3 separate regions of the Homo sapiens genome follow, and regions 1 and 2 are each linked to region 3. Evidence: fine-mapped expression QTL. A gene starts in region 3. Each other region holds a variant in brackets. All regions are shown on one strand. Distances are from middle to middle.

Region 1 (4,242 bases), 44 kb after region 3:
ATCAATAAAACTGTATATTTTTGGTGTACAAAATGTTTGATATATCTGTACATTGTGGAGTGGCTAAATCAAGCTTGTTAACATATCAACTCTAATTATTTCTTAAAGAAAACAATAAAATGTTGAAAAGGCTGGCTGAAAACCCAGAATATGAAAATGAAAAGCTGACCAAATTAAGAAATACCATAATGGAGCAATATACTAGGACTGAGGAATCAGCACGAGGAATAATCTTTACAAAAACACGACAGAGTGCATATGCGCTTTCCCAGTGGATTACTGAAAATGAAAAATTTGCTGAAGTAGGAGTCAAAGCCCACCATCTGATTGGAGCTGGACACAGCAGTGAGTTCAAACCCATGACACAGGTATAAATATCCTTTTGGACGACTTCTTTTCTTTTCTTTCTCTTTTCTTCTTCTCTTCTCTTCTTCTCTTCTTCTTTTCTTTCAGACGAGGCCTCGCTCTGTCACTCAGGCTGAAGAGCAGTGGCATGATCAAGATTCACTGCACCCTTGACCTCCTAGGCTCAAGCAATCCTCCAGCCCCAGCCTCCTGAGCAGCTGGGACTCTAGGTGTGCACCACCACACCCAACTAATTTTTTTATCTTTTTTGTAGAAAAGGTGTCCCACTATGTTGTCCTGGCTTGTCTTAAACTCCTGGGCTCAAGCCATCCTTCTGCCTCTGCCTTCCAAAGTATTGAGATTATAGGCACGAGCCACTGCGCTCAGCCTGGACTTCTTTTCTTATGCTGTTATTACTCTTCTCAAATTGTTTTTAGTCTTTTTCTACCAATCCTCTCACCACCCATGAATACATTTACAGGATAAAACACCTGTTCTTGAAATAAAATCTAAGGCTAATAGCAATCAAATCTGTGGTTTTTGAGAGGTTAAGTGTTGTTTTAGGAGTCATTTTTCCCACATAATAATTGGAAGAACTTTCTAAGTTTCCCTTGCAAAAATAAGTGACATGTAAGCTTAACAACAAAGTTCAGAAATGATTGCCATGTAGTATCAAGTGGAAAATTCAAACTCCCACAAAAATGTGTTCGTTATAACTAGAACTATGCAAAATATATTTACATAGAATGAGACCTCTAGGGAAACTTGAAAAAACTAAAGAATTTGATATATTAGAGATTTGGGATTCTGGTAAGTAGGTTTTCTGTTCCATTTTAAGGTGTTTTGTTTTACTTTGTTTACATGTTGCTTACTGTGGGCATAGTAAAAAAACACTTGGGTAAGAAAAAAAGGCACTAGTAGACATTACAAGCATGCATGAAGCAATGATGCCTTGTTAGAGTAAAATATTCTTCTGAGGGCTAAAATCACATTGACCCTGAGTCTTTCTGGACAAATGGATACTTCCTTTCTATTATAGTTATCACTATTCAAGCCAATGGAGCAAATTAATTCTGTTTCAGTGTTTGCTGGAAAAAAATTCTTGAAATGGTTCACTATAACTCTTTATATACCCTCTACATGCACTCCTGTGAGCATTGCCAATAAAATTAATGCCAGAGAAAGTACTGTTTTCCTTGGGTAACAAGTTTGCTTCCTTCTTTTTGATGAGATGTAGTTTGCTTTATATGTTTTTCTTTTTGCCTTAGCTTCCAGAAAGCTAGCAGGAAAAACTCAAGTTCAGTCTCACAGCCTCTGTGTTGATTCTTATGAGTTCTGTTTTTAAATTTCTATTATATTAACTTTAGCGTTGTGACTTTTATTGTAAGAGGGCTAAGCTTCTCTGTAAAAAGAGGTAGAGTGCAAATGAAAAGCCTATGTTCAAGCTACTTTCTGCTCCTTATTCATTTCAAACCAAGGGGCTGTGTGCCAAAATACAGAACATATTCCCTTCCTTCCCCACTCCTTGTATCCTCACCTTGTAAACTGGGGTGGACAAACTCCTTAGCAATGGTGTTAGGCATCTATGTGATGTGACTTGAAGATCTGACACTGTCTGGAATTTTTGTTATTAAAGTTACTCCTTCAAATTAAGACACAGGCATCTTCTGCTAAAATCCAAGAACATGTAAGTTTTTATCGGGAGATGTGAGGGCCGGAGGGAGAAATTTTCAGAGAAGACTCAAGA[G/C]AGGCCTTTCTACAGGGTTCTCCGACAGTTAGGAGTAGGAGTCAAATAAGGACTCACACTGCCTCTGAGAAGAAAGGGAAGGGGATGGAAGAACATACTTTTGGTCTGGCAGCTTTATTTTTGTTTAATGTATGGGGGCAATAGACAGTGTGGATGTGCACCAAATGCCAACTGGACCAACAGCTTTGATGAGAGTGGTTATGAAAATAAAACCACATTGTCCATATCAAGCTAGGTTTGTGCTCACTCATTTCTCCCATGTAAGGATGAGAGGTCATATTTTAATTTATTTATATTGACTTTCAAAATTCAGAGTTTTTTCATTTGAAAATAGTTTTATTTACAGTTGCATAACCTCTTCTTTCATTTTTATTTATATTGTCCCTTTGAATTGATAATATATTTACCTCATTCAAAATTAATGAGGCACAAGGCATACCACTGACCTCTAGTCTTCCAGCTCCCCTCCCTAGATGCAGCTGATGTTTTCAGTTTCTCTTGTGTCCTTTTGGGAATATTCCATAGCTTCTAACTCAAATGATTCTTAAAGTGACCAAATGCATATACAGTGTGCATTTTCTCTGTGACTGAAAACAATATATCAAAGCATCTCTGCATCTTATCCTCTAAATAGCAAAGATTCTGAAGTTAATGTAGTGGGGGAAAAAAGCCCATTTTAGCTTCTGATTGTCATATCCTCTTCTCAACCGACAGCTCCTCCTTTCTTCCTCTGGAGTCACCCATCAATTTATTTCCTTGGCATAAAATGTGGTCTTCCCACCTCCAGACTGGATGATGGAAATATTTTTGTTATTGTGTGGTAATCCCAGATTGGAAATCAAATGTTGTCTCACCATTATGTCTTTGTTCAATGCCAAAAACAGATGGCAACAAATCCATGTATGATCTAATCCTTTGATTTACACTGACCAGTTGCAATTTATTATTTCTTCCTCTAATTAGAAGATTTTAATGTGTTTAGCATCACAAAATTTAATTTATTAAAATGTTTCTACAGAATGAACAAAAAGAAGTCATTAGTAAATTTCGCACTGGAAAAATAAATCTGCTTATCGCTACCACAGTGGCAGAAGAAGGTCTGGATATTAAAGAATGTAACATTGTTATCCGTTATGGTCTCGTCACCAATGAAATAGCCATGGTCCAGGTACATTCAAATACCTCTACTTACTATGTTAATTTTTATTTGTTGTGTTCCTATTTTAATTGCTTTCTTTTAGTTAAACAGCAAAAACATCTTTTTAGTTTTTAAAACAAAGCCTTTTTCCTGTTAAAAGAGCATTTTTAAAATGCTGTGCACTGTTGCCTTTCATATTGCTGTCAATTCATATAATAACCAGATACCTGTTGTATGTTTAAACAACAACTCCTCTTTAGCTATTTCTGTACCCTAAGGCTTTCCAGGACCATGACACTAGCCCCATTTGTAAGAGTCAAAAGCAGCCTCCTCTTTCCTAGGATGTCTGTGAGCCCCCAGCTGGACCAGGAATCTAAAGTACACTGTCCCACAAATGTCTGATGAAGTAACATGCCCAAACCTGAGGGAGCCCTGCTGTTTCTGCATTTTCTTCCCTTATCCTTTCCAATTTTCTGTGTGTTTAGAAGTTTTCATGATAAAATGTTGGTTGGGGGCAGACTTATAAATGTAAAAATAAATAAAAGAGTGAAATGTTCTGTTTTCATTCAGATTTCACTTTATCTCTTACCCACCTATGTTAATGGCATTATTGTAACCTGTTGAGTAGGCATAGGTGTTATGCTGATTAATAGATACACTATTCTTCCTATAAAATTAACTAAAGGGATTTTTAAATAACTTAAATTGCATCCTTGAATAAAAGGCAAGTCATAGAAGACTAAGATAACCAGACTGCCATCAAATTAGCAAATAATTTTATTTCAGGAGTCTATTTGTAAGTCAGTGATAAGCTTAGTAATCAAACTTAGAATACATTTTTCCTTGAGGATACTTTTATAGTTGATAGGCTCCTGGGCCAGGCCACAGAAGTTTCTATTAATCAAAATATACCTGAATATCACTTTCATAAAGAGGCTTGTAGAAAGTTATCACCATGTTAAATATGTTCCCATGGGAAAATGTGCTAAGAATGTAATGTAGGATGCCAGAA
Region 2 (4,242 bases), 150 kb before region 3:
GTGTCTGCTGGCTGCATAAATGTCTTCTTTTGTGAAGTGTCTGTTCATATCCTTTACCCACTTGTTGATGGGGTTGTTTGTTTTTTTCTTGTAAATTTGTTTGAGTTCTTTGTAAATTCTGGGTATTAGCCCTTTGTCAGATGAGTAGATTGCAAAAATTTTCTCCCATTCTGTAGGTTGCCTGTTCACTCTCATGGTAGTTTCTTTTGCTGTGCAGAAGCTCTTTAGTTTAATTAGATCCCATTTGTCAATTTTGGCTTTTGTTGCCATTGCTTTTGGTGTTTTAGACATGAAGTCCTTGCCCATGCGTATGTCCTGAATAGTATTGCCTAGGTTTTCTTCTAGGGTTTTTATGGTTTTAGGTCTAACATTTAAGTCTTTAATCCATCTTGAATTAATTTTTGTATAAGGTGTAAGGAAGGGATCCAGTTTCAGCTTTCTACATATGGCTAGCCAGTTTTCCCAGCACCATTTATTAAATAGGGAATCCTTTCTCCATTTCTTGTTTTTGTCAGGTTTGTCAAAGATCAGATGGTTGTAGATGTGTGGTATTATTTCTGAGGGCTCTGTTCTGTTCCATTGGTCTATATCTCTGTTTTGGTAAGAGTACCATGCTGTTTTGGTTACTGTAGCCTTGTAGTTTAGTTTGAAGTCAGGTAGCATGATGCCTCCAGTTTTGTTCTTTTGGCTTAGGATTGACTTGGCAGTGCAGGCTCTTTTTTGGTTCCATATGAACTTTAAAGTAGTTTTTTCCAATTCTGTGAAGAAAGTCATTGGTAGCTTAATAGGGATGGCATTGAATCTATAAATTACCTTGGGCAGTATGGCCATTTTCATGATATTATTCTTCCTATCCATGAGCATGTAATGTTCTTCCATTTGTTTGTGTCCTCTTTTATTTCATTGAACAGTGGTTTGTATTTCTCCTTGAAGAGGTCCTTCACATCCCTTGTAAGGTCGTAAAACTCCACAGAATCTGCTCCACACAGACCTCTTCACCCACACCATCTCCAAGGCTCTTTCTCATTGACTGCTCTCAAACACGTGTATACACACACACAAGCACAAGCATACATACACACAAATGCACACATATAGAAACATGCAAATATATACACAGGAGACCAAGTGCATCGGATTCATTTTAGATGCTTGTTAAAATTCAGATTCCTGGGCTTCACCTAGTCTCAGAGGGCAAAGAGCAGGAAATCTACCTTTTTTTTTTTTTTTTTAATTTATTGATCATTCTTGGGTGTTTCTCGCAGAGGGGGATTTGGCAGGGTCATAGGACAATAGTGAAGGGAAGGTCAGCAGATAAACAAGTGAACAAAGGTCTCTGGTTTTCCTAGGCAGAGGACCCTGCGGCCCTCCGCAGTGTTTGTGTCCCTGGGTACTTGAGATTAGGGAGTGGTGATGACTCTTAACAAGCATGCTGCCTTCAAGCATCTGTTTAACAAAGCACATCTTGCACCGCCCTTAATCCATTTAACCCTGAGTGGACACAGCACATGTTTCAGAGGGCACAGGGTTGGGGGTAAGGTCAGAGATCAACAGGATCCCAAGGCAGAAGAATTTTTCTTAGTACAGAACAAAGTGAAAAGTCTCCCATGTCTACTTCTTTCTACACAGACACAGCAACCACCCAATTTCTCAATCTTTTCCCCACCTTTCCCCCTCCTCTATTCCACAAAACCACCATTGTCATCATGGCCTGTTCTCAATGAGCCGTTGGGTACACCTCCCAGACGGGGTGGTGGCCGAGCAGAGAAGCTCCTCACTTCCCAGTAGGGGCGGCTGGGCAGAGGCGCCCCTCACCTCCCGGACGGGGCGGCTGGCCGGGCGGGGGGCTGACCCCCCCACCTCCCTCCCGGATGGGGCGGCCGGCCTGGCGGGGGCTGACCCCCACCTCCCTCCCGGACGGGGTGGCTGCCGGGCGGAGACGCTCCTCACTTCCTAGAC[G/A]GGGTGGCTGCCCGGCAGAGGGGCTCCTCACTTCTCAGACAGGGCGGCTGCCGGGCGGAGGGGCTCCTCACTTCTCAGACGGGGCGGCTGCCGGGCGTAGGGTCTCCTCACTTCTCAGACGGGGCGGCCGGGCAGAGACGCTCCTCACCTCCCAGACAGGGTCGCGGCCGGGCAGAGGCGCTCCTCACATCCCAGACAGGGCACTAGGGCAGAGGCGCTCCCCACATCTCAGACGATGGGCGGGCGGGCAGAGACGCTCCTCACTTCCTAGATGGGATGGCGGCCGGGCAGAGAGGCTCCTCACTTTCCAGACTGGGCAGCCAGGCAGAGGGGCTCCTCACATCCCAGACGATGGGCGGCCAGGCAGAGACACTCCTCACTTCCCAGACGGGGTGGCGGCCGGGTAGAGGCTGCAATCTCGGCACTTTGGGAGGCCAAGGCAGGCGGCTGGGAGATGGAGGTTGTAGCGAGCCGAGATCACGCCACTGCACTCCAGCCTGGGCACCATTGAGCACTGAGTGAACGAGACTCCGTCTGCAATCCCGGCACCTCGGGAGGCCGAGGCTGGCGGATCACTCGCGGTCAGGAGCTGGAGACCAGCCCGGCCAAGACAGCGAAACCCCGTCTCCACCAAAAAAATATGAAAACCAGTCAGGCGTGGCGGCGCGCGCCTGCAATCGCAGGCACTCGGTAGGCTGAGGCAGGAGAATCAGGCAGGGAGTTTGCAGTGAGCCGAGATGGCGGCAGCACAGTCCAGCTTCAGCTCGGCATCAGAGGGAGACCATGGAAAGAGAAGGAGAGGGAGACCGTGGGGAGAGGGAGAGGGAGAGGGGGAGGGGGAGGGAGAGGGCAAATCTACCTTTTAATAAGCTTTCTGGGTAGTCCTTATGCATAAAAAAGGCTCGAGGACCACAGCTCTCACCCCACCGGGCTTTGATAGTGGAACGTACTCTTCTAAAAAGCATATCATTTCCAACTGAAAACAAACAAAAACCAAAAGCACATATCCTTTAAGATTCACTCAACTAGTACCGTTGTCAAAGATCCCTAGATGGCCCACAGTAGTCAATTCCTCCTGCTTCCTTTGTCACATGGTAAATATTATTGGTTTGCATACAAACTACTCAGGTCAGCCCAAGAGTATCTTGAGTTCAAGGACATCTCTGGCGGTACTTCTGGTACAGGGTCAAAAGCATAGTTGTTCAATTGGTGTTTACTGAAGTGTTACCTATGGTACTAAAATATGATTTTGCTCTCAAATGTGTTGGTTTATATGAATTGACAAGGCTTTACTTTTTATTATAGCATAAAATTTCATAACAGTATTTAGCTATTACATACCACCTTAACTTTTCAAATGTACTATAACAAAGAATGAAGGCAAAGCACAGTTGCTCACACCTATAATCCCAAAACTTTGGGAGACTAAAGCAGGAGAATTGTTTGAGACCAGCCTGTGCAACATAGCAAGATTCCTGCTTCTACAAAATAAAAATTAAAAAATTAGGCAGATGTGGTGGTATGCACCTGTAGTCCTAGCTACTTGGGAAGCTGAGGAGGGAGGGTCACCTGGGCCTGGAAGTTCGAGGTTACAGTGAACTATGATTATGCCACTGCACGTCAGCCTGGTCAACAGAGCAAGCTCCTTTCTTTAAAAAAAAAAAAAGGGAAAGAGGCTGGGTGCAGTGGCTCACGCCTGTAATCCCAGCACTTTGGGAGGCCTAGGCGGGCGGATCATGAGGTCAGTAGATCGAGACCATCCTGGGAGGTCAGGAGATTGAGGCCATCCTGGCTAACACAATGAAATTCTATCTCTACTAAAAATACAAAAAATTAGTCAGGCATGGTGGCACGTACCTGTAGTCCCAGCTATTTGGAAGGCTGAGGCAGGAGAATCGCTTGAGCCTGGGAGGCGGAGGTTGCAGTGAGCTGAGATCACACCACTGCACTCCATCCTGGGCAACAGACTGAGACTCCGTCTGAAAAAAAAAAAAAAAAAAAAAAAAAAGGAAAAGAATAAATACCTTGCCCAAGATATAGAAATAGTAAAAGAAAATTAAATTCTTCTGCCAAGATATTTTGTTGATAACCTTGCATAATTTGAGGTAACAACCTGGAAATTAGATCATAAGCAAATTTCATTTGTTTTTTCTTGATAACTTTATATTCTTTAGTATGAAGACATAGGTCAGATTGTATTGAGATTTTTATTTAGATCTTGGTATCTCAATTATTTTAATGTTTTAACAATGCTGCAGAACTTTTCTTCTCTGATTGGAAATT
Region 3 (4,242 bases):
CTACTTGTGAGAAAATATGAATTGTTATTGTTGGGTATTATGTGATGCTAATAGGGTTAGAGGAGGATGACTATTTGGGAAATCAACCTGTGAAACTGTAATATACATTATTATGTAGATTTACTATGGTCTTCAGGGCATTTATCCTCACCTGCACATTGCATATTTTTTAGTCATTACTTACCATCTATCTTCCCACTCCCATTAGAATGTGAACTCCATAAAAGTAGGAGCTTTGTTAATTTTATTAACTGCACCTAGATCAGTGCTGGTCATGTAATAGATACTTAATAAACATATTTTAAATGACTAGATGATACAATGAATGATATAATTTGAATGCCAAATATTTAAATATCTTTGGTTTAAATGTTTATTATTTGAGAACAGGTCAAATACCAAACATTTGATCCTTTCTCTTCCAGAGCAACAATTAAGTGGTATGAAGAAAATAACATTAACTGGTTCCCCATATTCAGTCAGCAACCCCTTCTCATTCCCCCATGTTTGAAACCAAGAAACAGAAGGATAAGTGCCAGGAAAAAGAATGTTTTTTGGTTTGTTAGTTTGTGCTTTAACATGTTGAATAAAACCCACTGGCAGCTGGGGGATAGGAGTATGTTTTTGCAACAGCCTTAAAAGATATTTTCATAGACCCAATACTTAAAATTAATAATTTGAGTGCTTTTGTAGAAACATCTAATTGGATTATCCTCTATCTGGGTACAAGGTCATCTCCCAAAATTAAGTGAAAAAGGAGTAGGGTTCTGTGAAGAAACAGAAAAGAACAGTATAAATCAGGCCTACCTGCAAGCCCAAGGTTTCATTTACTTCAACTTTCAGTGTATTTAACATTATGCCAGCTGCTATGGTCAACTCAAATACAACTCCCAGGAGAGATGTCATCAAGAGCCCACCAGTTGTGAGTAGTGTACTAGTTACTATGTAAATATATCCCTTCTTCAAGCAGCTTACAATCCTTCAGGGGTAGAAAAAGCCTTGCTACATAAGATAATTAGAGAATAAAATAAGACATGTTACCATAAAGTGCTCATTTGGATATTTTGTATGCCCCTAGTAAACACTCACCAAGACTCTGTACTTCTATTATCCTGTTCAAAGCACTATCAGGTTTTCCTGGCCTACACAGACTTTATTGAATGTACTTTGCTAACAGATTATTTTTCCTAAATATGTCTCTTTGATAACCTAAATGATCTCTCCATCCTTTATATAATTCTGGACCATGAGATTCTAGTTATGGTGCGTATGTGCCTACCACCCACAGTCACATGTGGCTACAGAATGCCTTCAGAATGAGTAGTAACCTTAAGGACTCACATTTATGTGGCTTCTGTACCAAAATGAAGCTGCCATTTTTCAGTGTGAATATGTTTTTTTTCTCTCATGACATAGACAAATGTTGATGTTTACTACAAGTTGGTACATTAGTTGCTAATTAAGTTCCTAGCTGCTCCAGCCAAAACTTGCTGTATTGAATCCAAGAAAAGAATGGCAGCTATATCAAAAATAAGTTGTTGGGGGATTTTTTTGTTTTGTTTTATTAAAGGAAAGTTGTATATTAAAGAATATAGGGAACTTACAAGCTGGGATCTAGGAAACTTTAAGTCTTGGCTTCCTTCTAAGCTGAGTTGGTGGTTCAAGTCCATCCACATCTGTTACCAGGTCCTGGTCAAAGCTGCATAAATACCAGCAATCTAAATATGAGGCAGTAAAGTTAACTGTTTATTGTTACTCACTTTTTCGAACCCACCTCCAAATTCCCAGGGAAACAAGTTAGTGTTTGGGAACCCACAGGAGGTCAGGTTTATTTTAGGAAGGACTTCCTCCTGTCTTCTCCACATCTCTGCAAAGATGTCTTCTGAGCTTCATCTCTCACCTGTCCCTCGCAGTCTCACCACCCTCAGCCAGGCCTGCCTACATTCACCAGCCGAGGGTAACTCCCTGTTCACGTCCGGGTCTGTGGCAGTTTCTGTTCACTTCCCCTTTGGAAAGTCCCAAATCACATGCTTTTATGCCCTGCACATTTTGGCCTACAAAGGACCTTATTGTTAAGGCAGAACCTGCTGGGAAAACAAAATATCCGCCGGAGGAGCTTTGCTAGAGCGTTGGTCTTGGTGTCAGAGAGAATTCGCTTTCCTTTTCTGTTTCCCGCGGTGTCCTTAACCAAAGGCCTCCTCTCTTCACCCGCCCCGACCAAAAGGTGGCGTCTCCCTGAGGAAACTCCCTCCCCGCCAGGCAGATTACGTTTACAAAGTCCTGAGAAGAGAATCGAAACAGAAACCAAAGTCAGGCAAACTCTGTAAGAACTGCCTGACAGAAAGCTGGACTCAAAGCTCCTACCCGAGTGTGCAGCAGGATCGCCCCGGTCCGGGACCCCAGGCGCACACCGCAGAGTCCAAAGTGCCGCGCCTGCCGGCCGCACCTGCCTGCCGCGGCCCCGCGCGCCGCCCCGCTGCCCACCTGCCCGCCTGCCCACCTGCCCAGGTGCGAGTGCAGCCCCGCGCGCCGGCCTGAGAGCCCTGTGGACAACCTCGTCATTGTCAGGCACAGAGCGGTAGACCCTGCTTCTCTAAGTGGGCAGCGGACAGCGGCACGCACATTTCACCTGTCCCGCAGACAACAGCACCATCTGCTTGGGAGAACCCTCTCCCTTCTCTGAGAAAGAAAGATGTCGAATGGGTATTCCACAGACGAGAATTTCCGCTATCTCATCTCGTGCTTCAGGGCCAGGGTGAAAATGTACATCCAGGTGGAGCCTGTGCTGGACTACCTGACCTTTCTGCCTGCAGAGGTGAAGGAGCAGATTCAGAGGACAGTCGCCACCTCCGGGAACATGCAGGCAGTTGAACTGCTGCTGAGCACCTTGGAGAAGGGAGTCTGGCACCTTGGTTGGACTCGGGAATTCGTGGAGGCCCTCCGGAGAACCGGCAGCCCTCTGGCCGCCCGCTACATGAACCCTGAGCTCACGGACTTGCCCTCTCCATCGTTTGAGAACGCTCATGATGAATATCTCCAACTGCTGAACCTCCTTCAGCCCACTCTGGTGGACAAGCTTCTAGTTAGAGACGTCTTGGATAAGTGCATGGAGGAGGAACTGTTGACAATTGAAGACAGAAACCGGGTAGGTGTCTGTTCAGATGGAGCTAGCCTTTTAGGCAGATTTTGCAAAGCAGGCTTCCTTGTGCGTTTGCCCCTTTCCAAATGTGCTTGACCTCTTTGGGCAAATCTAGTTTCTTCCTTTGAGAAGACAACATCTAGGCACTTTAAGACAATTTTAAAAATTTAAACACAAAAGAACTACTTTTCTAATGTTTTCACTGAAGTAAAAAGGAGTTAACTCTAGAATCGTAATGTGTATTAACAGGTAACTTTTATTGAACACTTACTATGTGCAGTTGGTATCATTTTCAAAATGTATTACTACAGTTCATGTTCAGAGTAACCCACTGAGGCTCCTAATGTTATTAACTCCATTTTACAGATGAGAAACCTGAGGCAGGTTAAATAATTTGTCCAAGGTCTCCCAGGAAAAACAGTGGCAGAGCTAAGAATTTAGCTTGTGATAGTGTTGAATGTTTTTCTTATTTAATGTAGTTCCATGGAGCAGGGGTTAGTAAACTACGGCCCATGGGCTAAATCAAGCCTGCTACTGTTTTTTTCAGGCCCACAGGCTAAGAATGGTCTTCAGATTTTTCAATTTTTAATTTTCAGTGTTCATAAAGTTTTATTGGAACACAGTCATGCTCGTTTGTTTACATATTGCTTGTGGCTGCTTTTCTACTCCAAAGGCAATTGGATGGAGACTGTGTGCCCTTAAAGCCAAAAATATTTATTATCTGGCATTTTAGAGAAAAAGTTTTCCAATCTTTGCCCTACATTACACTTTGTGCCATTTAGTCTTAGCCCAAATGGGTAAATTGCAATCACACACACACACACACACACACACACACACACACCCTTTTTCTTTAATCAAAGTTTCAACATTCTTTGAGAATCAAAATTTAGAAACAATTCATTGAAAGAATGTGTTGCTAGTTTCAGTTTTTCATGTTAGTGAAGAAACTCATTTTTCTTAAGGTAGCATTTTGACAGGGCGAATTTTACTGATGACTTTACATTGAATGTGATATGAATTATTTTTTGATAAGTGAAGATGTACTGTGATGTGTATAAATGCTGACCTGTTTGAATGTGACTTATTCAGGCTCGTAAGTC

Which allele goes with the higher level. Positions count from the first base shown, and alleles are read on the strand shown. Sizes are in standard deviations (SD) of each study's normalised expression.
In carriers of allele C in region 1, the expression in whole blood of the gene that starts at base 2,316 in region 3 tends to be lower than with G alone (moderate effect, 0.52 SD a copy in GTEx).
As copies of A replace G in region 2, the expression in tibial artery of the gene that starts at base 2,316 in region 3 goes down (moderate effect, 0.70 SD a copy in GTEx).

Evidence for each region. PIP is the estimated chance that this variant, and not a neighbour inherited with it, causes the effect.
Region 1: its variant is the best candidate, but not a certain one, in a credible set for the expression of IFIH1 in whole blood (TOPMed, PIP 0.87).
Region 2: its variant is the best candidate, but not a certain one, in a credible set for the expression of IFIH1 in tibial artery (GTEx, PIP 0.60).

Annotation. Positions count from the first base shown.
Region 1 is chr2:162,272,813-162,277,054 of GRCh38, reverse strand. It overlaps IFIH1 (interferon induced with helicase C domain 1), which reads left to right. Exons shown (of 16, transcript NM_022168.4): 11 at 109-368; 12 at 3,111-3,260. Among named protein-coding and RNA genes, the nearest start is that of FAP, 31 kb to the right of the region's middle. The variant G/C (reference allele first, on the strand shown) is at 2,093.
Region 2 is chr2:162,468,238-162,472,479 of GRCh38, reverse strand. All of the region lies in intron 6 of KCNH7 (potassium voltage-gated channel subfamily H member 7), which reads left to right. Among named protein-coding and RNA genes, the nearest start is that of GCA, 130 kb to the right of the region's middle. The variant G/A (reference allele first, on the strand shown) is at 1,960.
Region 3 is chr2:162,316,758-162,320,999 of GRCh38, reverse strand. IFIH1 (interferon induced with helicase C domain 1) reads left to right here and starts at 2,316. Exons shown (of 16, transcript NM_022168.4): 1 at 2,316-3,145. The coding sequence starts at 2,693. It also overlaps a transcript of GCA not described here. RefSeq lists enhancers at 1,084-2,283, 1,852-2,401 and a silencer at 2,432-2,521.